Linked DNA regions of Homo sapiens: region 2 is linked to region 1. The links come from fine-mapping of genetic effects on gene expression. A gene starts in region 1. The other region holds a variant in brackets. All regions are shown on one strand. Distances are from middle to middle.

The links. PIP is the estimated chance that this variant, and not a neighbour inherited with it, causes the effect.
Region 2: its variant is fine-mapped to the expression of TSPAN7 in whole blood (TOPMed, PIP 0.96).

What each region holds. Positions count from the first base shown.
Region 1 is chrX:38,552,218-38,567,791 of GRCh38, forward strand. TSPAN7 (tetraspanin 7) reads left to right here and starts at 9,325. Exons shown (of 8, transcript NM_004615.4): 1 at 9,325-9,410. The coding sequence starts at 9,330. RefSeq lists an enhancer at 9,425-9,926.
Region 2 is chrX:38,644,262-38,659,835 of GRCh38, forward strand. All of the region lies in intron 1 of TSPAN7 (tetraspanin 7), which reads left to right. Among named protein-coding and RNA genes, the nearest start is that of TSPAN7, 91 kb to the left of the region's middle. RefSeq lists a silencer at 13,485-13,534. The variant G/A (reference allele first, on the strand shown) is at 9,067.

The DNA.
Region 1 (15,574 bases):
GGTTGACTTTGCAGATTGTGGCTGGGCTCCCTTACATATTTGAGTTATCAGTGGAGACAAGAGGGCTGGCTAGACTCTGATGCACATGGTTTCTCATTCTCTAGCAGGTTAATCTGGGATTATTCCCATGGCAATCATAGGGTTCCAAAAGAGTGAGGAGAAGATGGTGAGTCCCCTTGAGGCCTAAGCTTAGCACTATCACAACGTCATTTTCACTGTTTTCTATTGTTCAAAGTAAGGAATAAAGCCAGCCTAGATTCGGAGAGAGAAGAAATAAATTTTACTTTTTATGGGAAGAGCTGCAAAGTCACATTGAAAAAGGTCATGGAAAGGGAGAGAAAGAATTTTGGCTAGTTTTACAATTCATTACAGTATGTTTTACCTAGAGACCAGAAAGCTCTACTACTCCTGAGCTGGGACCCACAACCCATCACTTAATGCTGATCTGTGAGTGATGCTAACACTGCTGCTTTTGGGGGTGCTGCTCCCACTGAGTAGGAATACAGGATGCCATAGCTTTACTAATGCTGTTAAAACTGCCACAGATGTTTTGGAAAGAAATGGCTGCTATAGTCACTGTTGCTGCTGCTATTACTGCTGGAGGGATTTCCAGAGACAGAAAAAAGAAGCTTATTTTTCTCCTCACCTCATAGTCTCTCCACCAGTGCTTCCCAATAGCAAACCTAACAGGAGGCTAATTAGGAAAGGAATCTGAAAAATGTAGTTTGTGGGTTTCTAGCTCCCTGTGATACAGAGAGAACATTGAAAGTATAACTGGGAGCCAAGTGAAAAATTGCTGCACAACAATATAATGTTTTAAACTGATCTCCTGTGTGGAGACACAACATAAGCGTGGAAAGCAAAGCCATCAGTGGGACAGTTTCTGAATCCAGTGGACAATGATATTTAATTTCTAGGAGAGGTATTTAAGAAGGGATATGTTCTCCTTCAGCTCAGTGAGAAAAAGGTAATACATAAAACAGAGCACCTCTAAGTAACTTTGTTCTAGACATCCAAGAGCAGATTTGTGTTCATTATAAAGGGAAGAACACTGGAGTTCTGTGCATGAGGAGCAACAATTATATAGTTGACCTCAAAAATTGTTTTCTTCACATTATATTCCCATTTGGTTGAGATCTGCAGATTATTCTTAAGTTATAATTTTTGTACCTTGAAATACACAAAAATTTTACTTGCATTGCTCTATATAACAGTAGTCACAGAATAACTATAAGGTCCTGAAAATACTTTTTCAAAATGTGTTTTTAGGGTGTAGCCTCTATACACAACATTTTAGAAATGTTTTAATTTTTATTATAAAAATAATTCTTGTATAAAATCAAGTGAGCGCCTGCAGAGGTAGAATTTCTTCTTAATACCATACAGAGATGGTCATGTATGTTTATCCTGATTTTTTCCCATAAACACTCTAATGTATTTTGTGATTATAATCACTGAAGTAGGATATTATAATTCTCTTCTCTAACTTAGAAGTTAAAAATTATGTATAATGTGTTTTGCCTTGTAGATCTTGAGTTTTAATACAGTTAAATGTATCTACTATTTTAAAATTGCGTCATTGAATTCTATAGCATGGATATACTGAAATTTATTTTATCGTTTGTCTTCCCATGTAGAGTACAAACTCCCTTAGGACAAGGGCCTTGTTTTTTTGGCTCACAGCTATATCCCCAGTGCTAAGAAAAGTGTCTGGCAAATAGTAGGTACTTAAAAAATTTGTAGAATGAACGAATATATGGCAAAACATTATTGATGAATATTTAGATATTTTCCATTTTCACTATTCCAATAATGAATTTTGCAATTAGTATTCTTGCAGATATATTTTATACATGTATTTATCTTTCTAGGGCAATTCATAGAGAAGGAATTACTGGGTCAAGGAACAAAACCAAATTAAAGAACTCTAACCCCTCTCAAATTCGTCCCATGTTCAGGAAGTACCCAATGTGAAGGGAGGTGGCACTTATATTTACAAACCCAGTCTCCCTAGCTATCACTTGAGTGCTACCACTGAAAATCTCACGAATGTAGTCCTGTTACTAAGTGGCATTGGCTTTTTAATTTGTTCTGTTTTGGGGAAGTTGTCTGAGTCTCTTATGTTTCTACCTCATGTTCTGATCCATTCAACTGTCATTCTGTTGAAATGAGAACAGTACCTTTTGTCCCTGCTATTTTTTGTTAAGCAAGCTATATTGGCTACAAAACTTTGTGCTCCCAATATCTTTATGAACTTTTTTTCTAATCTGGCTTTGTTAAAATCATCCCATTAACCCCCAAGGCTCAGGGTAAATCCCTATGGAGGAAAGGTAAGGGCTCACATCATTCATTTTATGCCAATATTGGGCTATCCTCAGAACAGTTCTAATCCTCTGACGCTAACCAAGGCTCCTTGAACCAAGTTTTCAAAGCTCAGTTCTTTCCCATCTTCAGTCGAGTGACTTGCAAACATACCCTTGACAGGTCTAGTCTCAGTCCTGTAGATGTTTCTGAATCCCAGGGTAAAATGTCATTTGGGCTGCTCAGGTAGGGATCCTAGAAATACTCAGATATATTCATAAATATAGAAACAGATGAACAGGGGTATGTTCAAATTTCATATCAGCAAGTTTTCAAGATAGTTCAGGGTTCCCCCCCTTAAATCCTAAAACTTTAATATTTTAATCTTTGGGGTAGAAGGCTTCCTTTATAGAATATTCTTTTCTGATTACAAATGTAATATATGATCATTTAGAAATGTTCAGAAATAGAGGAAATATAAAATAGAGAAAATAAAATCACCTATAACCTCCTTCCCAGAGGCACCACTGTGAAAATTTTATACACATTTTCATCCAAACTCTTTTCTATATGTTTTTACATAGTTAAAGTCATATTGCATATACTTTTTTGTTGTTGTTTGCCCTTTTCTTCATAACAAAACTTTTCCTTTTTGACTACAAATGCTCTTCATATACATACTTTCTAATAATTGTATATTAGTCCACTGTTTGGATATACCACATATTATCAGGGTTGTGTGTTTTAAAAGCTGTCTTGCAAGTTTACTCAGAATAAAAAGTCAGTCATATTTTCTTTCCTCACCCAGATCCACTCAGTCCTGAGTGCTGTCTATTCTATTTCCAAACAGTTTATCTGTCCCAGAGGTTTTAATCCAAGCTGGAACATCTGGGAAGCTTTTAAAAAATACTGATTGTTGGGGTCCTGCCACAGACTGATTCAGTCAGAATCCCTGAGGGATAGACCTCAGGTATTCACATACCTAAAATCTCCCCAGTGGATTTTCATATAGCCAGAGTTGAGATGAAGTGGTCAGGCCAGCCCCTTCTCTCCAGCCCCACTGCCACATCCCTAGGTGGAGCCCTCCCTCAACTCCCAATTAGGCAAGTGCAATTACCTCCTAACTCTTTTCCTGTTTCTCGTCTCTTTCTCTGGCAACGTCTCATCCTTCATACTCCTTCCCAAGTTACTTTCCTAAAACACAGGTCAGATCACATAGCTCCCCTATTGAGAGACCTTCCACTGCTCCCTACTGCCTACACTGGTGAGTCTAATTTGGCCTGAGCAAGGCCTTCTACCACCACAGCCCAACCTATATTTCCATATTTTTTCCTCCTCTAGGTCCTTGTATTAGTTTGTTTTATTTTGCTGATAATAGAATACCTGACACTGAGTAATTTATAAAGAAAAGGAATTTATTTCTTACAGTTATGGAGGCCGAGAAGTCCAAGGTTGCAGAGCTGTATCTAATAAGGGCCTTCTTGCTGATGGGGACTCTGCAGAGTCCTGAGGCAGTGCAGGACATCACATGGGGAGGGGGCTGAGCATGCTAATGTGCTAGCTTAGGTCTCTCTTCCTCTTCTTATAAAGCCACCAGCTCCCCTCTCATTATAACTCATTAATCCATTAACCCATTAATTCATTAATCTATAAATGGATTAATCCCTTCATGACTGCAGAGCCCTCATGACCCAATCACTTCTTAGAGGCCACATTTCTCAATACTGCTACATTGGGGAATACGTTTCAGCATGATTTTGATGGGGGCATTGAAACCATAGCAGTGTTCTAGTGTGCCTTGCCACTTTTCTTAGCGAGCTTTCTGCTTTTGTTCAAACTGCCTTTTTTCACACTGTTCCTAACCTGTAATGATCTCCTTCTCCAATCCTCAAAGAACACCATCATAGTATTCATACTTCAAGGCCCATTTCTAATATCATATCCCTATTCAACTAGTCAACAATCATCTATTGAGGGACTACTGTGCACCATTCATTAGTTCAACAAGTTTTTGAGTTCTACTGTATCTAGGTGCTAAGGAGATAAGAGTGAACAAAACAGACAGAAATACCTTTCCCCGTAGAACTTACATTTTAGTAGGAGACACAGGAAAGAAAAAAACACCTAAGCACATTTTCATAAATAAGAAAATGTTAGATAAGTGCTATGCAGAGAATTAGAACGTATAGTGACTGGGTGGCTATTTTGGTTTGAAATAGCCTCTCTGAGGAGGTGACATTTATACCGAGATCTGAATGACAGGAAGGAAGGGACCAATCATTCAAAGTTTAGGGGGCAAAGCATTCCAAAGAGAGGATCAGCCAATGTGAAGGCTCTGAGGTGGAATGAAGCCTACTTGTTTGAAGAACAGAAAGAAGGCCAGAGCAGCTGAAGCACAGATCCAAAGGGGGAGTAGTGGCAGAGAGAGTCAGAGCCAGCTTATATACGCTTTTGTGGTTGTTGTTGTTTTGTTTGTTTTGAGACAGAGTCTCACTCTGTCGCCCAAGCTGGAGTGCAATGGTGTGATCTTGGCTCACTGCAACCTCTGCCTCCTGGGTTCAAGCAATTCTCCTGCCTCAGCCTCCTGAGTAGCTAGGATTATAGGCACATGCCCCCACACCCAGCTAATTTTTGTATTTTTAGTAGAGACAGGGTTTTGCCATGTCGGCCAGGCTCATCTCGAACTCCTGAGCTCAAGAAATCCACCCGCCTCAGCCTCCCAAAATGCTGGGATTACAGGCGTGAGCCACCACGCCTGGCCTCATATATGCTTTCTAAGTCAGGGCAAAGAGTTAAAATTTGATTCCAAGTGCAACGATGAGAAGCCACTAGATAATTTTAAGCCATAGAGTGATATGAAATGGTTTGTGTTTGAACAAGATCACTCTGGTTGTTGTGTGAACAAGAGATAGAGGGGGTAACAGTAGGAGGAGGGACCAGGTAGATGCTTTGGTAGCAGTCCAGTTTTCCTTGAACTACTTGCTGAATTTGAAGCAAATAAAAAGCAAACACTTCTCTTACTCTTAGGCAAAAGATTAAAATTCTTAATGTCACCTAAAAAGACCTGGATGGGCTGGCCTCTCTCCAGCCTTCTCTATACCTTCATTGCCTCCTGCTATTGAGCCTTGCTGACCTTCCTTCAGCTCCGCAACCTACATCATTCCTTCAGGCCACAGGACACTTGGACTTGCTGTGGTTACATATTATTTCTGTGTGTTATAAAATACACATAACATGCAATTTACCACTTTACCTATTTTAAGGTGTACAATTCAACATTAAGTACATTCCCACTGTTGCACAACCATCACCACTATCTAGCTCCAGGACTTATTCGTCACCACAAGAATAAACCCCATATCCATTAAACGGTGACTCTCCATTAGGGTTAGCCCTTGGCAACCACTAATCTGCCTATGGATTTGACTATTACGGACAGTTCATATAAATAGAATTATACATATGCATCCTTCTGCATCTGGCTTTCGCTCAGCATAATGTTTTCAAGGTTCATCCAAGTTGTATCATGCATCAGTACTTCATCTCTTTTTATGGCTGAATAATATTCCCTAGTGTAGATATGCCACAAAATAGATTTCATTAATCTACTTGTCACTGGACATTTATTTAGGTTGTTTTCATATTTTGGCTATTGTAAATGGTGCTACTGTGAGTTGCTTGGTGATATGGCAGCTGTGATTATATATTGATGCATTATAGATCAGTGAATCTTAGACACGTGATAGTTTCCTACAGCTGCTGTAACAAAGTACCACAAGCTGGGTGGCTTTAAAAAAAACAGAAATGTATTATCTCACAGTTCTAGAGGCTAGGAGTCTGACATCAAAGTGTCAGCAGGGCCATCCTCTCTCTGAGACTCTGGGTAGAATCCTTCCTTGCCTCCTCCTAGCTTCTGGAGGTGACCATCAATCCTTGGCAGTCTTTGGCTTGTAGCTGCATCACTCTGATCTCTACTTCTGTTGTCACAATGGCCTTCTCCCTGTGTGTCTTTGTGTTTTCCTATGGCCCTCTCCCTGTGTCTCTTCTTTTAAGGATATGAGCCCTTAAAAGTGCTTGGATTATGGGCCCCCACTACTCCAGTATGACCTTGTCTTAATTATATTTGCAACAACCCTATTTCCAAATAAGATCACATTCTGAGGTACTGGGGTTAGGACTTCAGCCGCACCTAGCCTGGACTTCAATATATCTTTTGGGAGGACACAATTCAATCCATAATACATGACAGACATTACTGTGCATCTGACTCCCCTGGAGATCTTGTTAACATGGGCTTGGAGTGGGGCTTGAGGTTCTGCATGTTCAAACAGCTCTTCCAGTGGATGTCAATGCTGCCAGCTCAGGGTTAGTGTGACTAATATGTTCTGGTTTGCGCAAGGCCTTCCTGGTTTTAGCAATGAAAATCCTGAATGCAGGGAAACCCCTCAGTCCTGGGCAAACTGGGATGGCTTGTCACCCTATATATATGTCATGGGCCACAATTGGAGAGCAAGGATCTAGCTACAAGCTATGTTAATTTATCTACTAATTACATTACTGAATATTCATATTTATCTTTATATTTAAATGGTTTATTTTTGCTAGAACAGTCCAAGTTTTCAAGAATCTGGACCTAAGAGATATTCCAAAAATGCTCCAAACTGTGAGACGGTGAGTTAGCTTAAACTGATGGGTGTCTTCTGTGAATGTCATATATTAACTCACCAAATTATCTATGATGCTTAGCAGTGTCACTGTTGGGCTGAACATTGAGATTTCTGACCTCTTTACAAAATAATTATACATGGCCAAGATCTTTTGATGCTAAGGATACCCACTGGGCTTGAAGTCTTCAGTATCCTTTCCCTGCTGCTGCAGCAGTTGGAATCAGCCTGGAGTCTGTAAGAATGAAAGAGAAAGCTCCTCTCTGAAGTTGGGTTTAAGTTCATTGCAGTATGGGGCAATGCCCCTCAACTCTTGCTTAATATTCAGACCACCTGAAGAGCTTCTAAAACGCGGAGCTTTCACCCCACACCAAATGACTCCAAATAGCTGGGATTGGGCACAGGCATTCATAATTGTTTTAAAACACCAGGTGATGCAAATGAGCACCCAGCATCGAGAATCAGTGTGCCAAGACCCCTTTATAACAGACACCTTGCTCAACCTGTCCCTTCTTTCACCTGCACCTATATTCCACCCTTGTATGCCCACATACCTTTTTGTTATAGTTGACAATTTCCTTAAACAGGTTCTCCTCTTCCTCATATTTTTGTCCTGTTCATACAGTTACCTTATTGACCTGAGACCACATATAACTGGATAGAGGTAATAATTACTCCTGTAACAACTGACCTTAGCAGGCTTTTCCCAAGCCTTATTGACTCTGTTTTTCACTCTTTCACAAATATGTATCCTTAACATCATCATCCACGATTGAGTTAACCTGTGATAGTGTTGCTGTTTTTGACTAGTCTCTTAGCAATCAAGCTAAATCTCCCACTGAATCTGTGTGTTCCTCTACAAACCATATCTGGGTGGAATGTACGTTTTTATTGTGATATAATTAATATATCATAAAAGTCATCCTCTTAAAGTATACAACTCAGTGGTTTTTAGTAATTCACAGTATTGTGCAACCATCATCACTATGTAATTCTAGAACATTCTCATTACTCTAAAAAGAAGCCGCTTACCCATTAAAAGTCACCTCATTCCTGCCTCCCACTCGCTGCAACCACTAATCTCTTTTGTCTCTATGGATTTGTCTATTTTGGATATTTCCTATACATGAATCATTCAATATGTGGTCTTTTGTGTCTGGCGTCTTTCGCTTAGCATATTTTCAAGGTTCATCCACGTTGCAGCATTTACCAGTAGTACTTCATTCTTTTTTGTGGCCGAATAATTTTCCGTTGTATGGAGGCACCGAATTTTGGTCATCCACTCATCAGCTGACGGATATTTGAGTTGTTTCCAATTTTTGGCTATTGTGAATAATGCCGCTATAAACATTCATGTATATGGTTTTGTGTGGGCATATATTTTCATTTCTCTTGGGTAAATACCCAGGAATGGAGTTGCTAGATCATATGCAAACTCTGTTCAACTTTTTGAGGAACTCCAAATTGGTTGTGAACATTATTTTTTGACCTCAATGCAGCTTTCCTTTACAGGAGGGAGGTGGACTGTACTTGTTAGCGCGCTGCAAATGATTCTCAGGCATATTAAACATTTTTCTGTATTCTGTTAAACATTGTATGCGCAGCAAGAATGACGCCTCATACAGACCTTTCTTGTCATTTCGTTTTATTATTTCAAAATGTAAGACAAATCTGAAAAATGGAGGAGCCTGCAGATACCTGTGGTGGCGAGGATTTGGGGTCTGTCTGAGCTCCGGCGTTCCTGCCCATCCCTCCAGCTGTATCTCTGGCCACCTGTCTGTTCCTGGCACAAACAAGGCCTGCTGGTTGCCAAGGACATGACTACGGGGCCATTTCCATGTGAGAAGGCCCTGGGGGGTGTCAAAATGCAGAAACGTGACTGATGGGCAGCGGGGCACCCATAAACTTCCCATAGCCAGGTGCAGGCATACCTGCAAATGTAACGCCCAACTGTGTACAAAGCAGAAATCTAAATGCCAGGGCGGACTGGGAGAGGTTCCCGTGACCTCTGACCCGGCCTCTAAATTCTCCCATTCCCTCCCCACTGTCCTGCCGCGCCCCGTGTCGCCTCGCCTGGCCTCGCCTGGCCTCGCCTCCCTCCTCCGCTGGGGGTCTAAGCCTGCGCAGTATTGCGAACGCGGGCGGCGTTTCCCGCATGCGCAGTCACTGCCCGGCCCGGCTTTTTCAGTAGGAGCCCCGCGCGGTGCGCGCTCACGCACGCGCACGGCCTCGCCTGCGCGCTCACGAGGCCTCTCGCGGCACGCGCCCCCGCCCCGCGCCGCCCCGCCCCGCCCCGCCTCTTCCCCCTCCCGCGCGCCCGCCCGCCGCCTGCCGCCGCCGCCGCCGCCGCCGGAGCTCTGTAGTATGGCATCGAGGAGAATGGAGACCAAACCTGTGATAACCTGTCTCAAAACCCTCCTCATCATCTACTCCTTCGTCTTCTGGGTAAGTGCCCACGCCGGGCCGGTGGCCGAGTCGCTGTCCATCGGTCCGTATGATGATGCTCTGAGAAAAGAAGTGGGGAGGAAAACCCAAACCAAAAATCAAATCTGGGACCCCTCTTTAAGGAGACAGGCGCGGGGTGCTGGGTCGGGGCTGCAGGATGGCAGGGTGCGGGTCGGGGCTGCTGGAACCCTAGACCTCGCTCCGCGCAGGCTGCAAGGGGCTGCGGAGTGTCGGTGACTGCAGGTTGTCGACCTTCCAAAAAAAAAATGTTAATGCATTAGTTTCTTTTATAATCTCCCGGGATAGGGTCAGCTCCTGGGGAAAGTTGCGGGTTTATTCGTCTGTTTTCCTCGCTGTACACCTTTCTCTCCCTTCCCCTACCAGCCGGTTCGCGGCGCCTCTTGGAGCTAACCTGTGGCGGGCTAGGAGAGGACACGGGAGCGTGGGGTTTAATCTCAGATTCCCAGTTATTCCTGACCCCACGGGGCTGCGGGAGGGAGGCACCAGAAGCACCGTGCCTGCCTGGCTGGGCAAGGGCGACCGAAGTCTCCCAAGCGCACGATGGGGAGCAGGCGTTGTCACCGCGTGGAGGCGCACGAAAGGGAGAGGGTCTTACATAAGCCGGGGGCATCTTTGAGGTTTCTTGGTGACCCAAGAGATGAGTCTTTGGATTCCTTTCCCACCTCCCTGCATCCTTACACTCCCTATCTGGTGGTTCTGTCACTGCATGAGCACAATCCGCAGCGCCCTGGCAGAGGGTCCCCTCCACTTGGTGATAGAGATAGCGCCCCAACTCTACTCCCCATCTATCCAGTGCTGCCGCCGGTCCTTGAAGCTCAATGCAGAAGGGTGACGTCACCCCTCAGCCAGGGCCGCGGGGGGCTGCGTGGTGCACCTCGCGGAGGGATGCGCCTTTCTGCGCGGGGGAGGGGGGAGGAGGAGGAGGGGGAGGAGGAGGAGGAGGAGGGGGCTCCAGGCTTGTGCCTTACCTCATCCTGTTTGGCAAATCATGGAATCAGTGCAGGGCTGACACTGCAGTGATTCACTGAGAGAGGTGCGTGGTACTTAAAGACCATTCCCTGTTATTTCTCTTTTCATGTCGGTGACCCCGTCTTCCCTAGTTCCTTACGCCCATAATCAAGCTACAGCTACCCCGCAGGGGAATGAATATCGACCCTCTTCCCCCCTTGTCCCCCAAATCTGGGTCATTTTAGCTTCTACGGCAGTCATTTTGAAATCTGAGGCTCTGTAGGAAAAGCCAGTTCAACCTTTGCTTGTTTTCTTCTTGCACCCCTCACCCCCGCCCCTCACCCACCACCATATATTAGCCCTATTTTTGCTTTGAAACTGGAGCACAGTGCTGTATGAGGTACCGAGAATCAGCTAGATGGCAAACCGGACTGTTTGCAATGGTCAAGGAAGAAGCAGAGATTTATTGAGGATCAAAAATATTCCTAATGCACCCGGACATTTCCTTATCGCTGGCGTTGGTGGTTCTTCAAGTCAGGGAAGGTATGGACTCCCCAGACCACACATACCAGGAGCTCTGCAATGAGCTAGGATAGATTAACTGGCATATTGCACAAGGCAAACACAGAAACGGACTTTATTTGGACTGACAACGACACAGGTTGAAATGTCTCAGTAGTGGAATTGTGAGCTATGCACAGATCATATCATCTTATGCTCTGCCTGTAAAAAGCAGTAACACATGCTGATTGCTGAAACTTCCCAGTAGCCATTCCTGGGAACTGGTTTAGCTTTTTATGTGTTTCCTTAAATCTCTTTTTGTTTGGCCCTTTATCATTTACTTGACTTCCTATTTGTTACTGGAGTGAATCATATTGGGAGGGGGGAGGTATTTTTATCTTCCTTAAAAATAAGGTTAACAGTGCACATGAAGAAATATTGTTCTTTCAGAATCACTGCAAGCTGGTAAAGAAGGGGGTCTTCCAGGCTGAGGCTTTTCATATGAGCACTTTAACTCTCCTTGCTTACATTCCACCCCTATGAATCTAATTACTTAATGCCCCCAATACATCTTAAACAATCACTGCATTTTATGTCCTCCGGAAGTTCCTTGATGCCTTCATTTTAATTTTTTCTACTTTCAAGATTTTCATAGTCTTAAATGTTAACCTGGAACATTTTCAATAGTTTAAATACCAAAGCCAGTTCTGGCTTTGGTTGTTGTAATCATTTCATACTTACAACCAAAAGAATAAGATCTCTTCGGATGTGTGAGGATATTTTAAACAAGACGTTATTTTTAAGTAGCCTTATTGAGGCATGATTCATATGCCATAAAAGCCACCTATTTAAAGTATACGATTCAGTGAGTTTTAGTATAAGTAGCACATATTTTAGTATATAAGTGGTATATATTTCTGTATATTTAGTATATTCATAGATATGTGCAACCATCACCCCAGTCAATTTTAGAACATTGCATCATTTCACAAGAAACCTGTTTCTTTAGCTGTTATCCCGTTTACCCCCCAATTTCAACTTCCCACCCTCATGCCCACCCCCTGCCAGCCCTAAGCAACCACTACTTTCTGTCTCTAGAGATTTCCATATTGCAGGCATTTCATATAAATGTAATCATACAATAGTTGCCCTTTTGTGACTGTTTTTTTCACTCAGCATAATTACTTCAAGGTTCATCCATGTTGTAGTGTATATCAGTACTTCATTCCTTTTTATGGTTGAATAATATTCCATTGAATGATTATAGCACATTTTGTTTATCCATTTGTCTGTTGGGGGACATTTGAGTTGATTGGGTCATTTAGCTATCATGGATAATGGTGCTATAAACATTCATGTACAGATTTTTGTGTGAACATGTCTTCATTTCTATTGGGTATGTACCTGGGAGTTGAATTGCTAGGTCACATGGTAATTCTAAGTTTAATTGTTTGAAGAACTGCCAGCCTGTTTCACAAAGCAAAGCACTCCTTCCCTTTGACCATGAGGATTCCAATTTCTCCACATCCTTGCCAACATTTGTTATTGCCTGACTTTTTTATTATAGCCTTAGTAGGTGTGAAGGTGGTATCTCACTGTGGTTCTGGTATGAATTTCCCTGATGTGTAATGATGCTGAGTGTCTTTTTTATGTGCTTGTTGGTCATTTGTGTATCTTTCTTGAAGAAATATTTATTCATATCTTTTGACCATCTTAAGATGTGGGGTTTTTTTATATTAAGTAGTAAGAGCCCTTTATATATTCTGAGTACAAGTCCCTCATCAGATACATGATTTACAAGTGTTTTCTCCTATTTTGTGGGTTATCTTTAGATGGTGTCCTTTGAAGTACAAAAGTTTATTTTTATGAAGTCCAGCTTACCTATTTTTTCTTTTTTTTTGTTTATGCTTTTGGTGTCATATTTGAGAATCCTTTGCCAAAACCAAGGTCACAAATATTTACCTGTTAAATGTTTATAAGAATTATCTCTCAGTTCAGTAAATGCAGTTGGTAAATCTTTCTTCAGCACTTAGAACTATGTCTGGCACATAGTAGGTACTCAAATATTTGTCAAAACTTCTGGGATTATGCTAGGTAGTTTACAAAAAGATGACCTTACTGGTCTTGTTTGTTTGTTTGTTTGTTTGTTCGAGGCAGAGTCTCGCTGTGTTGCCCAGGCTGGAGTGCAGTGGTGTGACCTCAGCTCACTGCAACCTCCGCCTCCTGGATTCAAGTGATTCTCCTGCCTCAGCCTGCCGAGTAGCTGGGACTACAGGTGTGTGCCACCACGCCCGGCTAATTTTTGTATTTTTAGTAGAGACGGGGTTTCACCATGTGGGCCAGGATGGTCTCGATCCCTTGACCTCGTGATCTGCCCGCCTCAGCCTCCCAAAGTGCTGGGATTACAGGCGTGAGCCACCACACCCAGCCGACCTTGGTGTTCTTTAAAGTGGAAGGTGGAGGAAAGATTAGACAGAATTATTTCCTTTGTGTTCGTGAGTTGTTTTAATAGGAATTTTTCCCTTTCATTACCTTAATTTAGATTTAGAACTAGAAGGCATTTGAACTTAAAATGGTGGTAGAGCAGTAGCATCATAAAGGTTGACATACTTGAGCATATGTTAAACCAGAAGTCTACACTTTTGAAAGAGAGATTATTGTTTTATCTGGCTTTCTCTCCTGTCTATAATCACACTCTCTCTCTGAGGTGTTTCTCTAAAGTGGTGGTTCTCAAAAGGGGGCAGTTTTGCCCCCCTCCCATATTTGGCAATGTCTGGAGACATTTTTGGCCATAGCTGGAGGGGAGGATGATACTGGCCTTTCGTGGGTAGAGGCCACAGATGCTGCTAAACATCCTACAGTACATGAGACAACCCCTCACAACAAAGAATTGCCTTGCTCAAAATGTCAACAGTGTAACCAACCTCTGCACTACTGGACTTACATAGCAGTAAGTCCTGTGAAGAAAAAATGGAGCGTTATGCAAAACTGTATATTTATTGGTGTTTGGAACCACCGTAGCAGAGCATGCGCAACACAATCACGTGAGAAGAAAAACATTCTCTATTGTGTACTATATAATTATTTGAAGACAAAAGGTAGGTACCTCTTTATATAATTGTGTTTGAATGGATGGGATGATTTGTCTTTTGGTTAAATAATATCACCTGAATGCTGTGTAAACTGATCCTTCATTTCTCCTGATTTGTATGTTTTATTTTCAGGTCTATAGAAGAGGAGGGAAAAACACACCTAGGAGTAAGTTATCCTGTGCTTTAAAGACTAGCAAACAATGTCAGGCTTATAGTAGGTTTACTCACTAAATACTTATTTCCTTAATGAATGAATGAATTAATGAATAAATGAAATTTTATTGACTACTCTTGGGCTCAGTTATTTATTTCAACTCACCTCAATGGGAAAGTTTTTTTAAAACAATGTTATTTCTAGTCTACCTGTAGTGATTTAAATGTGCTCCTCCAATAAATATGTGAAAAGATGGAATAGCAGATTTCACAAGGACTTGCTTATCCTAATGATAGTTCAATCATTATATTTTTGTGATCAGTTAGTTTGTCAGACATTTTGGTTATTTAAATTTTTAATTAGAATTTTTTAAGCATGAATAAAAAAGATCTTGCCCTATATATATATAACAAAATATCCTTTCTTCACAACCAATGTAACTGTTTCAAGATCAAGCAAAGAAATGTAATAAATATTTTGCTTACCAGGTGAATTTTTGTTTTATTTATACATTTTTAATGTATTTTAAATACTCATCTGAGTTCTAAGCTAAGATTTAAATCCACCATGTGTGAAGAGAAGTTCCCCTTGCTTAATTCAAGTGTATATTGGGCCTGATTTCTTGATTATCTAAGGAGGTAATTAGCTTATCAATAGTGCTATCAAATTCTTCTATGATAAAATATCAGCGATTTGTTTTTCATTTGAGAAACATCACTAATCTTTTCTGGAAAAATAATTTAAAACAATTTTTTTTTTTGTCCAGAAAGTTTAGGTACTTGGGATATAAATAGAGGGAAAAGTCTTAAAGAGCAACTCCTAACATTTTAAAGAGTGTTTGAATTTGGGCACTGTATTAGTCTGTTCTTAAGCTGCTAATAAAGACATACATGAGACTGTAATTTATAAAGGAAAGGGGTTTAATTGACTCACAGTTCCACATGGCTGGGGAGGCCCCAAAATCATGGCTGAAGGCGAATGAGCAGCAAAGTTACATCTTACATGGTGGTAGGCAGGAAAGCTTGTGCAGAGGAACTCCCATTTATAAAACCATCAGATCTTGTGAGACTTATTCACTATCAGGAGAACAGCATGGGAAAAACCTACCTTCATGATTCAATTATCTCCCACTGGGTCCCTCCCACAACAAGTGGGAATTATGGGAGCTACAATTCAAAATGAGATTTGAGTGGGGACACAGCCAAACCATATCAGGCACATACTTTAGTTTATAGTTATTCTTTTGCACATCAATACAATTCAGTCATTCACTGAATGTCTATTACATGTCAGGTATTGAGTAGTCAATAGAATGTGTACCAACGTTTACTAGCTGCTGCTTTTGGCATTTTACCTGCATTTTAAAATAACACATGTATTCTATTTCTCAACTTTTCAGTTTTAGATGTTATGTACTGTCTTCCCACTATGGAAGATGAAGATTTAGC
Region 2 (15,574 bases), 92 kb after region 1:
TGCACTGTTGTTCTGGTGACATTCTATGATGTTAAATCTTTATTTCAACCTTGTGTGACCAGACAGTTTACTGGGAATGAGGAGAAAGCACACTAGTATCAAAATAAATCTTCATATAGTCTATCATAGCTTGTTTTTTCAGATAATGAGTGTCCCTTTCGATTTATATCTTTTGCATTTCCTTAATGAATTTTGATTTTCAGAATAAATTAAGTATTGTCACTATATACAGTCCTGATAAGGCTGACCTTGTTCCCCAGAGACTCTTTTACACTGCCCTCAACCCCCGTCTGTAATAGAAGTTGTTTAGAGGCCTTTAAAGGTGACATTTTGAAGCAATCTGTAGGGATGAATAAATGACGTGGATTCTAGTCCTGGCTCTGCCTCCAACTCACTGTGTGATCTTAGGCAAATATTTTGCCTCTCCAAGCCTCAATCTTCTCATTTGTAAAATTGTGAGGGTTGGACTAGAGATGATATTGATGAAGATAGTAGCTAACATTGATTGAATGCTTCTGATGTACAAGGTGTTATTCCAAGCACTTTATAAATATCAATTTGTTTAATCCTCCCATCAGCCTTGTCAGGCAGGTACTCGATCATCATTGACTCCCTCTTACAGATGAGGGAATGCACACACACAGGTCACTTGCCAAAGGTCTCCCGGCCGGTAAGTGGTGTGGAACAGGATTATTCTAACCCAGGAAGACAACCCCTAAGCCTGCTCTCATGGCCACTGTGGCCTCCTGCCCCTCACTGTCTTGCTGCTGACAGTGATGTCTAATGTGGTATCCAGTGAGGGTTTAGAAAATGTCATGACATCCGTATTTGCAGTGAAGTCACCCCACCCATCTGCACTCATACACCAACACCAGTTTGATCCTACTCAGGCTGCTCATTGCTACTGTGATGTTTGGCATCACTTCAGTTGGCTGGAGTAGGGACAGGGGCAGCCTTGGAGCCCTTGCTAATTCCCAGGAGCTTCTAATTCTGCTGCTCTGTGAGCCCATTGCTTCCTGGATGGGTCTGTCCACCTTGACAGGGTCCCCACAGTAATCCTATGGTAGACCTGCAAACAAAGGAGTTGACAAATTTTATGCCTCTTCCAAGAGCTCAATTTAAAACAGCTGCTATTGCTGATTTGCAAATGAATGACAAAGCTGTGCACCTGTAGTCCCAGCTACTTGGAAGGCTGAGATGGGAAGATGGCGAGCTCAAGCCCAGCCTGGGCAAAATAGCAAGACTCCCGTCTCCAAATTAATTAAACTTGTATTCAAGGGATGATTTGAAGGAAAAAAAAAAAAGAAAATGAATGACAGCAAACTTTCTCTTGAACAGTGAGCATAGGAGGGGCTGTGCAGAAAGTAAGGAGATGACTATTTTCTAGCTGCAAAACAACGCTTATTTTTCCCAAAAGCCAGAGCAAACCTCTGGATTTATAACTGTCTAGAAGCTTAACAGAATGAAAGATTCTCTCAGGAGGCAATTCAGAACATAAAAGGATTCTGGACGGTACAGATTCTTGGTAGCGTGCATGGCTGTGGAAATACTTGGAAGCACTCAATAATAACATAAATAATAATAAAAATAGCAATGGGAAAATTACTGCTTTTGTTTGACATTTCCTGTTTACCAGACCTGAATGCCTGGTTAGTATATTAGAGAAATTATCTGTTTAAACCTTTCATCAGCACAACAGTTTACATATGAAGAACCTGAAAGTATAGGGTTGTTTTTTGGGTGCCTGCACAATTTATGTTTAAGTTAAGGTACTTCTTGTCAATTACCTGGCAGTGAATTACTGACCTGATAAATTCCAGACTTATTGGTCAAACAGACTTAAAACTCTGGTTTTTAAACTAGTAATAGTTGGTGTACTTTCTATAAAAAAAAAACCTGTAAATACATTAAAACTCTGGAAAAAGTAATCTGGCAAAAAGTATAGATCCAATACCATAGAGCTTTTCTATAATATCTTTTGTATTACATGTTCATAAAAGAAAGAAAAGGCTGCAGGATTTTGTGGCAGACAGGATGTGGCTATGGCTTTGGTAAGTAAATTTTGTTGCAGGGTTGGCTCCTACAAATATTAATGTGTGTAGCTGTGGGATTTTGTGAAGGTAGTGTTTGTTTTTACTCTCCCTGAAGTGGCAGTGGAATAGAGTAGAAATATTAGGAGCAGTGAATGCACGTAAAACAGGGGTTCTTAGCAGGGGCATGTCAGAAACCAAAGGAGGGAGGTGTATGTAGTTGGAGAAAGTGCGTTCGCAATTACCATTGCTTGGAAGAACTTGTGAAATGCCAGATAATCTTAAAGGAGGGCATCAGGTATTTTATGCTTACCAAAAGTTGAGAAGCTCTAATTACTTCCTTGTTCAAGTGAATGATGATGTGTAATTTACATGCTGTAATTATATGCATTCATGTGGAGTGGAATGTCCCCAAATTTCAAAAATTGCATTAAGGTGATAGAATTTGGGGATAATATTTATTTTAAAATTCTGCCTTTAAGAACGAGAATGTGCAAGCACAGGTGCAATTATGTACTTCATTGCTTTTATCTGTACTTCTGGGACATTTGTGTCTTCATATTGCCAGAGACCAGTGGCCACGGGAAAACAGATTGTCTCAGTTCACGGTCCCTCACTGAGGTCAGAGCTTAAATTTCCCAGTGTTCCACTTAGGAAGAACAGTGCTAATGTGTATCTTTTAAGATAACTCAGCCTGAAAGCCATCTGACTTTCAGTGAGAATGAGGGGTACACTAGGGGAGAAAATAGGCATCAAAGTTTGGAGAGGGCTGTGCTGCCTATAGATTTTCTTCTAATTACATTCACCCAGAAATGCATACTTTAAAAAAATTATGCTTACTACTCTTTTAACACAGAAGCTTCTACTGGTTGGTTTTGCTAGTTAAAATCCTTCAGTTAAGCTCTGTAAAATTATTCCCCCACTTGGATTAAAGGGATAGAACACATGCAGTTAATACATAAACCCTCATGGTACATTTGTCCTGAGTTTTACTGAAATATTTTTGGTAGAGATGGGGCTTTACCATGTTGGCCAGGCTGGTCTCGAACTCCTGACCTCAGGTCATCCGCCTGCCTCGGCCTCCCAAAGTCCTGGGATTACAGGCATAAGCCACCGTGCCCAGCCTTGTCTGTGATACAAAATTTTGTGTCACAGAATTCTATTTTTAACACTATTACTTTCTAGAAGGTACCAAACATACTATAAAATAAGCATTTATTGAGTGTGTACTAAATTTAGGACACCATATTGGGTGCTCCTGGAAATGTAAAACACAATGATTTGGTCCCTAACCTCAATTGTTTGCATGCTATTAAGAGGACAAGATGGACATTTGTGAAGTTTCAAGACAAATTGAAACTGTAATCTGCAAAGCAACATAATTGTGGCAGCATTGACTGAACAGGCTTTCTTTTAGCCCTTTGATGTTTAGTCCTTATTCTCATGGTTTGATTATGGAAGAGTCCAAGATGCTGAATGTTAGTCACAGATTGAGTCCTGTGGTTCCGGCAGCTTGTCAACTCTGGTTGCTATACGTTTGGATAATGTTAATAAATTCATTGTTCAGGGGAGCTTACAGTGTAGAGAACCAGGTTGAGCACAAGTCAGATACACAAAATACAATTAACTATACCAAGTAACCAAGAAAACTAACTTATAAAAGTTCCTGGCATGGTGTAGTCAAAATGACTTGGCCTATGATTAAGGACATTGGGTTTTTGCTTTGTCTTGGTCCCTAACAGACTGTGGGACATGGGGCACTACTTAGCTTTCTCTGAGCCTGCATTCTTATCTTGAAATGGGTATGCTGATTATGTGAGCCTCATGGGATTATTATGAATACTAAATGGAATTTTATGAATGAATATACTTTATAAACTGTAAAGCAGCTTACAAATGTTAGAGGATATTTTAATTTCACTTGTTGCATAAAATCCAAGAGCCATTTTTCTTCCTCCTACTGTCTCTAATGATTATATAATAACATTTTTTCACTTATTCTTTTTCTGCTTGTGTTTTGAGGTTCTCCCTCACAATACACTCCAATCAAAATAAAGATTATTTGCATCACTACATGTGTCCCCTCCTATTATTCCTGACCCCTTCATGGACAGTCACTTTTAGGATTTCTATTGCTGTAGCTTAGTTGAGCCATTTACATTTTATTTATTACTTATAGTTGGGATCTTGCTCTGTTGCCCAGGCTGGAGTGCCATGGCACAATTATGGCTCACTGTAGCCTCAAACTCCTGGGCTCAAGTGATTCTCCTGCCTCACCCTTGGAGTAGCTAGGACTACAGGTGTGGGCCACCATGCCTGGCTAATTTTTTAAATTTTTGTCATCGTGACAGGGTCTCGCTGTGTTGTCCAGGCTGGTCTCAAACTCCTGGCCTTAAACAGTCCTCCCACCTCAACCTCCCAAAGTGCTGGGATTACAGGCGGGAGTCACCACACCCAGCCAGGCATCTGCATTTTAACTTTAGCCAGGCATGGTGGCATAAGCCTGTAATCCCAGCTACTCTGGAGGATGAGGCAGGAGACTCACTTGAGCCCGGGAGGTGGAGGTTGCAGTAAGCTGAGATCACACCATTGTACTCCAGCCTGGGCAAGAGCAAAACTCTGTCTCAAAAAAAAAAAAAAAAAGAAGTAACAGATGCCAATATTATGTTATTCCTGTTAGGTAAGGAGGGTCCCTGGTGTAATCCCAAATGTGCTTGCTTTTTTATTTACTATATTATTTACTTTTTAAACATTTATTTTTATTATACCCTCTAGCATTTTGGAAGGCACTTATTTTATATATGCTTGGTCCTTAGGCCCTTTCTTCACCCCAAATGAGTATGTTAACAGATTGTGACACAGTGTGACACCTCTTCGTATGCTGTATTGTCCACACTGACACATTTCTGATGACCGCCAAGCCCTCATTCTTGCATGGGAAGAGTCCCTGCTGCAGTAATGTTAGCCACTTGCTGAGCTCACAAGTCAGAAGGGGGGTGGTGGTTCAAGAGGTGTGGTGAGAGGCTCAGTGATGGTGAAAGGATATCCAAAGGATCCTGCCAATGCCATTGGATCATTTAAGAGAGACCTACTTTGAATGGTCCATAGAGTATGGTGAGTTTGGCAACAAGCCAATTCCTTCAAGATAGTGTCTTCATTTATTTGAAGTCACTTGGCATGTAGCCTTATGTGGTCAAGGACCTAAGCCACACTTTTGGGAGGAGCTGAGGGAAGGGCCTGGCCTCCTGAGAATTGCCAGTATTGCACCCTCCTTGTAGGCCCCCTGGTTAGCCAACCAGGGATTCTGTTCTCTCGCTGGTACAGGCTGCTTGTGGCTACCCGAGTTGGGTTTCCCCAGGGTCCGTTCAGGGCAAAGGGTTGTGCTGTTAATAGGTCTATCACCACAGTTTTCTGATGCTGTACAGGATGCAGTGTTTAAAGTCAGGCTGAACACATAGGCTGCTTCACAGTCCCTATCCTTTATTTCAGGAGGAAAGGGATAGCCAAGTCTCGCAGTGACAGGCATGTTAATCTGTGGGTTGCCCGGCTCACAGCCTTTTCTGACCATCTGTTCTCCTAGCACTTGCTGATAAGATGGGGCATTGGGACATGGCCTTGCCCTCATCACAGCTGATGGCTTCCGGGAGGTCACCTGACCTGAGACAGGCCCCTCAGATTCTCTCTTCCATGAATTTGAAATTTGTGTTCAAGGCTGCTCATCAGTCTCTGTTGGATGTTTGAATTGGGAATGCTCTAATGGGAGGCTTTTGGACAGAGAGAGCCAGTGTGCATAGATAGAGAAGAATGCAGCTGATGTGCAAGAGAAGTACATCCCAGAGCCCTGACTATAGGGAAGGGTAGCTCCTTTGGCTTCCTGTCCCAGGAAGTGCCAGCGGCTTGTGCTTCCCTACAGGATGCCCATGGCCCTCAGGAAGCCCCTTGCTCAAGGTGGCTTGTATCATCTCTTGCTAGTAGCCACATGATTTGTGGTTAAGATACTTTACGTTTGAATAATGCGAGGCAAAATGAGTTGAGAGAATGGTTTACTAAAAATAATATCAATTGATGTAAGAGGTCAGAATATAGCCATGGTGCCTGCTGGTCCATCCTGCCAGCAAGCCAGTGCAGTCCTTGGTCACAGTCACTCACAGTGTGTGCCAGGGCTTCAGACAGCCCTTGGCTGTGAGTGAAGACATGTGGTAAGAGCCAGGGGCTTTCCTGTGCCCAGGAAAGCATGTCCTTGGCCATAACTTGTGTGGAGCACAGGTAGGACTCAACCATTCTGGCCCTTCAATGCAGCTTTAAAGAGTGGTCACTGGGCCAGTCACTTTCAGCTGACACTGTCAAAGGGGAAGGATTTCTGCTTCTTGCTGAGAAGCCTTAGCTTTCTAAAATAAGTTGTTTTGGTGACTCTTGGGGAAGGAAGAGGCTTATATCACTGGTCTTTGAGTTGAGGGACCTGATTACCAGGTTATACTTTTCTGGACTTCTCATTTGTCTAAGACCACAACAGTCATATTTATTTCTAAGCACAACATGGAAGGAATGCAACAGCTTCTGATGCTGTTTCCAGACTTGACTATTGCATCTCTCTAGCCGTTTTTACATGTAAGGATCCCTGCCCAACCTCTCCCATCTCATGCCCTCTTAGCAACCTCAGAAACCAAAGAAAAATGCCCTGTTAATGTGTCCTTGATGAGAGCTATTTGCAAACAAAGCACTCTTTCTAGTCATATTTCATTATCAGAAATGTGATTACATATATATATATATATATATATAGTTAATAACAATCCCATGAGGGACTCATCTCTTTTTCAGGGAGCAGATGACTGGGGATGCAGATAAGGTGTACCCAAAGTCTTAGAATACAAGGTAAAAATGTCAGTAATGGCCGGATGCGGTGGCTCACGCCTGTAATCCCAGCACTTTGGGAGGCCGAGGCGGGTGGATCATGAGGTCAGGAGATCGAGACCGGCCTGGCCAACATGGTGAAACTCCGTCTCTACTAAAAATACAAAAAATTAGCCGGGCGTGGTGGCGGGCGCCTATAATCCCAGCTACTCGGGAGGCTGAGGCAGGAGAATGGCATGAACCCGGGAGCCGAAGCTTGCAGTGAGCTGAGATCACACCACTGCACTCCAGCCTGGGCGACAGAGCGAGACTCCATCCCCCCAAAAAGAAGTCAGTCATAAGAGGTATGTGGAAAATCTTAAGCACATTTAGAAGAGGATGAAATGATTATTGTCTTTGAGTGTCAGGAAAGGCCTCTTGGTGAAAGGACATCTTCGTTGTGCTTTGAAAGGCAGGTAGGACCTGGCTGAGCAGCGATGGGGCAGGAGGGCTGAGCAGGTAGAGCCCTGCATGTATCCTGCAGGAGCAAGCTTGATGGTTGTGTTGCCTCAGGGTCCAAAGTGTAGTTGTATTTGCCCCCATAGCCATGTAACGAGCTATGTAATTTTCTATAGGAATAGATCTCTGGTGCAATATACCATTACTAATAGCACCTTATTAGATACTTCCTCTTTTTAGTTCCAATATATGTCAGGTTTTTGACAGAATCCTTGTCTATATGTGAAAAGTATGAAGGTTGCAACTATAGTTTTTGTAAATTTATCTTTAACCAGCTTCACTGATTCTTAAAGTCATCCAGGATTTCTGACTCTAAGTGATGTAGAGTGTATTTGCTTATGGAAAATAGAAGAATTAAAATAATAAGGCAAATACTCCTTCCAGTGCCATATCCTCTTTTAAAGAACACAGCTCATTTTCATTGCAGCCCCATTACACTGAACAGGCTTTTCTCTTGCTCTTAATGTGTCAAAATTGTATGACCTATCGCTTCCTTTGAAGATCAAAGGAAATGAAACTCCAGATCTGGGAAAATGGTTTCCCCAATTCCTGTGCTGTTAATGCTCCTATTCATCCATGTATGAAAATCCAGGGAGATAATTGGCTAGCAAAGGCTAGCCAATTAGCTAGCACAAGTCTTCTGGGACAATAGTCAGAATGAGAACAGGTTTTGAGAAACAGTGTAACTTAGGCCTTCCTGCTGGGTTCCCAGTCATAGGACTTCTGTCCCATGGTTGCATCCAGAGTCTCTATGGGGCTGCCCAGAAAGCTGTTTACCTTCTGTTGTAACACCTCCCAAGGCAACCCACTCCATTTTGGGCAGTGCCTATTATTAGAAAGTTCTTCCTTGTAATGAGCCAAAAATCTGTTTCCCTATAACTTTCCCTAATACTGGCTTAAATATAGATTTTTGAGGACTGGCCTAGAAACAAGCCACCAGGTATAACATGGTTTCTCAAAGAAAATACATTTTGAGTTTCAAACAAGTAATGTATAAATAATCCAGAACACAGCCCAGTTCATAAAATGGAGTATGCCCAATAAGGGGCACGGGAGGCCCGTCCCAGGAAAGGAGAAGGGAAAAGGCCAGTGCCCCCAGGGTCAGTCTGTAGAGTCCGTTTCTTCCCACTCTGCGTTTACCCATGTTTCCTGGCTATTGACAATTAGAAACTGCCCAAGAAACCTCGCTGTGGAAATTGGTTCAGGGTACTGGTTTCCTCACAGCTCACTCGTAGGAAGCCCTTAGGCAGTATAAAGAAAACCAGGCTTCTCTTTAGCGTTCACCTACCTAGACGAGAGGGTCAGTGACTGGGTAATATTGGACAGAGGAACTCAGCCCTTGGCCTTGACTGCTGTTACTTACACTGCCGCAAGAGGCAGAATATAATAATGGCCAAGAAAACTGCCTTCGAGTTGGACAGAAATTGATTGGACTCCGGGCTATACCACTTATTTGCTTTGTGACTTTGAGCACGTTGCTGAAAGTCAACAACCGAAAGCCTCAGGTTTTCATCTGCAAAACAGAGATTAAGAATAAATGTGATGAAGCGTATAAGGAGCACGGTACTGCTCAATAAATGTCGTTTATCACACACATACATGGTTAACTCTGTTTCCAGACTGTGCCCTTCGTTCATGAACAGCCAATCAAATCCCCCTCCCAGGCTGTGGGGTGAGCAGATAC[G/A]ATGCGGTTGCCTTATCTCGTGACTCAGCCCATCACTTTTGGTTAGAGCTACTTTGAAAGGCAATTCCACAGTTTCAGAGTGGGTTCTTCTCATATATGTTGCACCTGTGGCCTCTTGTTTCTCTTCTCAGGGCCAAAACCAGAGTACTTAAGTTTCTTAAGCTTTCGTTCTAGAATGTGCTTGGTGGAAAACCAATACTCAAGACACTACAGTTTTCCATGTGTTTGTCAAGCTTTATTGATTCTTCAGATCAGTCCTCCCATAGGTTTGTTCCTGGTGCTAATGATATTGAACATTTCTGGTTCACGTCGACATACACATGAAGATATTTATTTCCCATACTGGCTTTTAAAGTATCAAACTATAGCTTGGAGTGGAACATGCTTTCATTTCTATAGATTTACCTGCTTGAAGGAGGGGAATAATGCATAGCCTTTTATTATTTTTTTTATTATACTTTAAGTTCTAGGGTACATGTGCACAACGTGCAGGTTTGTTACATATGTATACATGTGCCATGTTGGTGTGCTGCACCCATTAACTCGTCATTTACATTAGGTATATCTCCTAATGCTAATGGATAGCCTTTTAAAATAAATGAATTATTGGCCATGCCTATAGATCTTATTTATTTTTAATTATGGCAGCCAAATTCTCAGGGTTGATTCAAGGAAAAATCAGTGCCAGGATGGACGATGCTGGCTTATGAACTCCTCTTATGGAAGAGTTAGGAGTAAAGGGTTGAGGAGAAAGAACCTTCTACAGACAGGCTAAAGAGGACATTAAAGGAAAGCAGTAGTGGAGGGTCAGGGCTTTGAGTAACTGTTCTGCCATTTAGTGGCGATGACCTTGGGCACGTTTCATAGGGTTATTAAGAAGATTGAGCCAGATAAAGCATTAAAGCACTTAGCATAGTACAGGGCACACAGATAGTAAGCACCTCAGTTGTACATTTTTTAAGAGACAGGGAAATCTTACTTAAATGCTGTTCATTATCTTGGCTCCTAACCATCAGCTACAGACCTCATAGAGTTATAGGATATTAGAGCTTCAAATTACTTTTCTATTAGTGGTGATGGATTAGAAGGAACTATTCCCATGCTTTCTCATTTAGTCCCCCTTGTGGCCAAAAGCAGACATTTATGAAGCAATGTGCTGGATTAGAAGCAATTGGCTAAAGCACAGGTTTTTATCTGAGTGCAACTGCCAGGGCCTTACAGTAGTCAGGCCCACCATTTAGCCTCCTTGATGCAGTGCTAGTGAGAATAGACTTTATGCCTCCAAAGCTCATACTTACTTACCTGCCTGCTGTCTTGTATTTGGTCAGTTAGCAAATATTTAACTAAGCCCCTCCTGTGAGCCGGCATTTGTATTGGCCCTGGGGATACACCCATGAATAGGATGAATAGGACAAAAATCCTGCCCTCACAGAACTTAACATTCATTTTGGTAGACAGACAAAGTGAGTAAGGTAAATAGTATACAAAGGTGATAGGTGCAGTGGCGAAAGATAAAGCAGGAGCCCCGTGGGGGAGTGGAATTCTGGTTTCAAATACGGTCATCAGGGAAGGGCTCATGGAGGAGCAGAGACCTGAAATGAGAGATCTTGGAATTCCAGGCAGAAGGAAGAGCAAGTGTGAAATCTCTGAGGCAAGAGCATGCCAAGAGTTTTGAGGGTGAACACAGAGGCCTGTGAGGCTGCAGCAGAGTGAACCAGTGGGGGCTGCAGGTCAAGTAGGACCTTGCAGGCCAGGATAAGAACATTGACTTTCTCTCTGAGAGATGAAATGTTGTGGGAGGATTTTGAGCAAAGTCACGTATTATTGGACTTAGGTTTCAGCAGGATCATCTCAACTGCTGTGTTGAATAGAGAATGGGGGCAAGGGTGGATGCAAGGGGAGATGGAGGCTTGGCCTAGGGTGGTAGTGGTAGAAGTGGTGAAGTGTCCTCTTTGTGCTTTTCCAAAATGTCTGATTTTTAGGGGGGCCAAAAACATATTACTATTACCTTAAAGTTATTTTTTTCATAGTACTCTGTCAATATTAGACATCTGAATTTTCCCTGTACATTGCATTTAGTAGCAGTACCATATATATATATGCAGTGTGGACATATGAGTGTTGAAAGGAAAGCTAATTAAGTCACTAATACCAGTTTTTAAGTTTTTTTTTTCCTTAAATCACCTCAGGAGAAAGTTAGGATCATTGAAAGGAGAATCCTACCTTACTATTTATATGAGAATCTTGCTCTTGAACACTGCATACATGCTTTCTTTTCCAGGTTTTTCCACATTTAATAGTAGGTCCTCTTCTAACATTATGTCTTATTGGCTCCAGTTTCACCTGAAAGGAGGCATGAGTTCTTCAGACCAACCCACCTCATCACACCCCATCAATGCATAGCCACATAAAGCGTGGGAATTCAGTGACTTTTTTGCCATCTGAGTTCTAGCTTCTTCCTGTGTATAAAGTATTTATTAGGACTATGGTTTTGGTTTCAGTATTTTGAAGATGATAATCCTATATATAAATTATGCAAAGAAGATTCTCCCTTTTGAAAATAATGGAACTCCAGGAAAGCCAAATAGGTTCAACATAATTATGAGAAAGAAGTGTGCCACTGTCAGATTGGCATTTATGGAAAAATTGTTACGATTCGTTTTTCCAGATTCATTCCCATCCAAAATTCACGAGGACACAGCCAATAAAAGGGAGCTGAATTTGAAGAAGAGCTCGTCACTAAGATTCATTCTGTATTTATTGAGCTGATTCTGTTTGATGGATATTAGGACAGAATATTTGAACAGCATGTTGTCTTGGAAAATCAGGTACGAGGTATGGCTGAGGCTTTGGTGGATATAAAGGAGGAAAGGATTTATTCCTTCCCCACATGACTCTTAAAATCTTGATGTATTAATACAATTAATACAGGGCAGAACAAATGTGTAGTCAGTACAAACATTCTGTCAACACACATTAATATGTGGCTCTTGTTTATAAGCTTATTCTGACATGATCTTTTTAAAAAGTATCTTATTAGTGTAGAATTTGATCCGTCTTTTCACAGTGCTGGTTACCTGAGGAATGGAAGCAAGGGAAGGGGTTTCTTGCCGTAACTCTTCTTTCACTGGTGGTTGGCTATCTGCTAATGGCGCTAAGACTGTTAGTGCTCCTGGCACTCACACGGCCTTAGTGTGTATTCAACTGTGCCAAAAGATAAAGGAGGTGGGGCATACAGGGAATCCCCCAAACATTAAGCTTCTGTCACTTTAGCCACTACAGCTGGTGCAGATTTCTAAGTACATAAATCTCCTGGTAAGTGGCTTTGCTGGCCCCAATTCCTAATAGGCATTTACCTATATGATGTCTATTTATATATCTGGGTCATCATGAAACCAGAGGTATGAGCTATATTCATATAGTCTTAACCTCTGGTTTGCTTGCTTCTTCCTTTCACATGCTCTTGGACTCTCAAAGTTGAAATAAGACCTTCACTATTAGTATAGATCAAAAACCTAAGTCCTGTTTTAAACATTTGCTAGGAGAACTCAACAATGCTTATAAAGAAAAAATAATGCCAAGAGGCTCAGAATAAGCTACCCTTAACATTCTTCTCTGATGTAATAGAACATTTCTCAATGTACGGATATGTGTGCAGTTAAATTCTTTCTTTTCTTTTTGCTTCTGGGCCTTTTTGGGGAATTTAGTTTTTAAGGGAGAAGAAACCTAAGTCTGTAAGCTTTTAGGGTAATATAAAAGAAATGAGAAACCAATTCAATAGGGCTGACCATTTTTTTCTCTTTTCCCAGTGTGATATACAGAGTACCTAATAACATGTTCAGGAATTTTCTGTGACTCTATTTGTTGAATAATGGAATTAAGTATAAGGTAGAGCTGTGTGGGCCTCATTTGAAGGAGTTTAGTTATTCAAGTAGTAAAAGGCTCTCTTAACAAGGTGGCATTTATTATTATTTTAGCAGCTGTATAGCCCTGATTTTCTGTGACAGGCCAATTTCAAAGATCTTTACCGTGTTCAGATTCTGTTTTTAATTCTGAAAATACTGTCACCATATGGGTCCATTTTTACCACTTCATGGGCCCACAGGACATTAGAGAGTATTCAGTCTCTAGCCAGCCACCTCCTTGAGCCACCCTCCAGCTAAACTCCCCAGGATGAGTACAGAGCCCAGCAGGTGCAGCCCCTTGGTGAATGCTGTTGACCAGTCTTTGGCATCTGAGCTAACAGTTGAATTTGATATTTGCCCCTCTGAGGACCACTGGGCAATTCAAAGAAACAAGTAACTCTAGCACTGGAAGGGCCCTGGGGCTAGTCCTGCCACTTTGTAGATGATGAACTAAGACACAGATATGCAACATGACTGGTGTAAGCTAGTGGTTGCAACTTAGAGAAGGAAGTATTGTTTGCTGGACTTACAGCATGCCTGGAGCCATTTCCTATGAAATGATTAGTTGTTTCACTACACATATGAAGAGACTGTAATAGACCCACAGTCAAAGCTAGAATTTCTGACTTTTCATAGTGCTATTCAAAGCCATTTTCATATTTTCAAAAGCATCTGTGATTTGTTATACCTTGTTAGACAATCTGCATTTTAGACTCTGGCTATCTGATCCCTGATAAAATCCAAATAGAAGCTAGAGTTTGTGACAAATCACTCTAGCTTCATGACCTAGCTCCTGAAACTTGAAGTCTATGAATTGGATCTAGGATGTAATAATATTAAAATACAAAATGTAATCTCAGTGGGCTGTACTGGGTACAAAAATAAAGAGTACCCTGTCTGGTCATTAGTGTATGCAGGATCAATGAATTGTGCTGGTGTTTTGTTTCCCATAAGTCTTTTTTTAAAAAAATAAGATCTTGCTCTGTCACCCAGGCTGGAGTGTGGTGGTACAATCTTAGCTCACTGCAGCCTCGACCTCCTGGGCTCAGGTGATCCTCCCACCTCAGCCTCCCAAGTAGCTGGGACTACAGGCATGTGCTGACACACCTGGCTAATTTTTTTTTTTTTTTAGAGATGGGGTCTCACTATGTTGCCCAGGCTGGTCTTGAACTCCTGGCCTCAAGTGATCCTCCCGCCTTGGCCTCCCAAAGTGCTGGGATTATAGGCACAAGCCACTGTGCTTGGCCTTGTTTCCAATAAATCTTTAAAGGAGAAAATGTCTCTTTCTTCCATGTCCTACTTCTCATATTGGCAGCCACCTTTATAGACTTGTCCACTCTGTTTTGCGTCTCTTTGCTGTCCCCTGTCTTCCAGCATTGTCCTCTCATGTTCTAGTGACAGTCTTCCTCAAGCCTTAGTCCTTGAACTTCCCACCATCTTCTGCTTCTGTTTCCCAAGATTCGTTGTTCCCGCTTAGCTGTCACTTCTGGCCTCAGCCCTCACCTGCAGCTCTGACTTACTCCTAAATTCAAGCCCCACATTCACAACTGCCTTCTGAACATGTTGCCTCTGTGACCTTTGGTCACCCCAAACCCAATAGAAAACAGAGCCTGGACCAGACGGTCTCTGGATTTCTTATTGGTTCTCAGATTCAATTTTAACAAGTCAGCACTTAAGATTATCTCACTCCTCTCCCGCTTCTTAACTTCCCTGTCTCCTTTTAATGATACCACCAACCTGTCAGCCATATAACATGTATTATCTTCCATACACACACACACACACACACACACACACACACACACACCCACAGACGTACACATGTATACATGTACACGAGACAAAAATGGAGTAAAAAGGTTGAATTGGTCAAAATACTTGCCTAGAGAGAGTTCAAAGCACATGTCTTGATAACAGTGGGATCTTCTTATAAAAAGTAAAGCTTTTGTTATGCTAGTGAGCTTATAAATTTTTGCGTGTCTGTGTAAAACTACAAACGCATGTCCTGCTGGGCATTCTTCCTACCCTTTCTTACCCAGGAGCCTCTCGCCACCTGGGAAAGCTGACAGAACAGTGGGCTTCAGGTCCAGAAATGAGCCAACTTTCCTACCCCTGCTGCTGGTGGTTTATCAGATACAGGGAGAATCTTAGAAACTCTCTTTTGTTTGCTTAAAGGCACAGCTATAAATATATTTCAGCGTGACTGAGTGTGTCAAGTTTGAGATTCTGATTTGTTGTATCAGAATGTTAGAGCTGGGAGGGAAGCACTGGCAATCAGGTTTCTCTACTTCCTGATTTTATTGAAGAGTGAGCTGAGGCCCAGAAATATCAGGTGATCTGCCCAAAGTCACACAGCTCATTAATGACAAAACTACAACTGAAGCCCTGGTCTTCTAAACCCCAGCCAAGAGCTCTAACATTTTTAATTCTAATTTTTTTTTTTTTTTGAGATGGAGGTCTTGCTATGCTGCCAAGTCTGGCCTCGAACTCCTGGGCTCAAGTGATCCTCCTGTCTCAGTCTCCTGAGCAGCTGGGATTACAGGCGTGAGCCACCACATTCAGCTAACATTCTTTTTTTCTTTTTCTTTTTCTTTTTTTTTTTT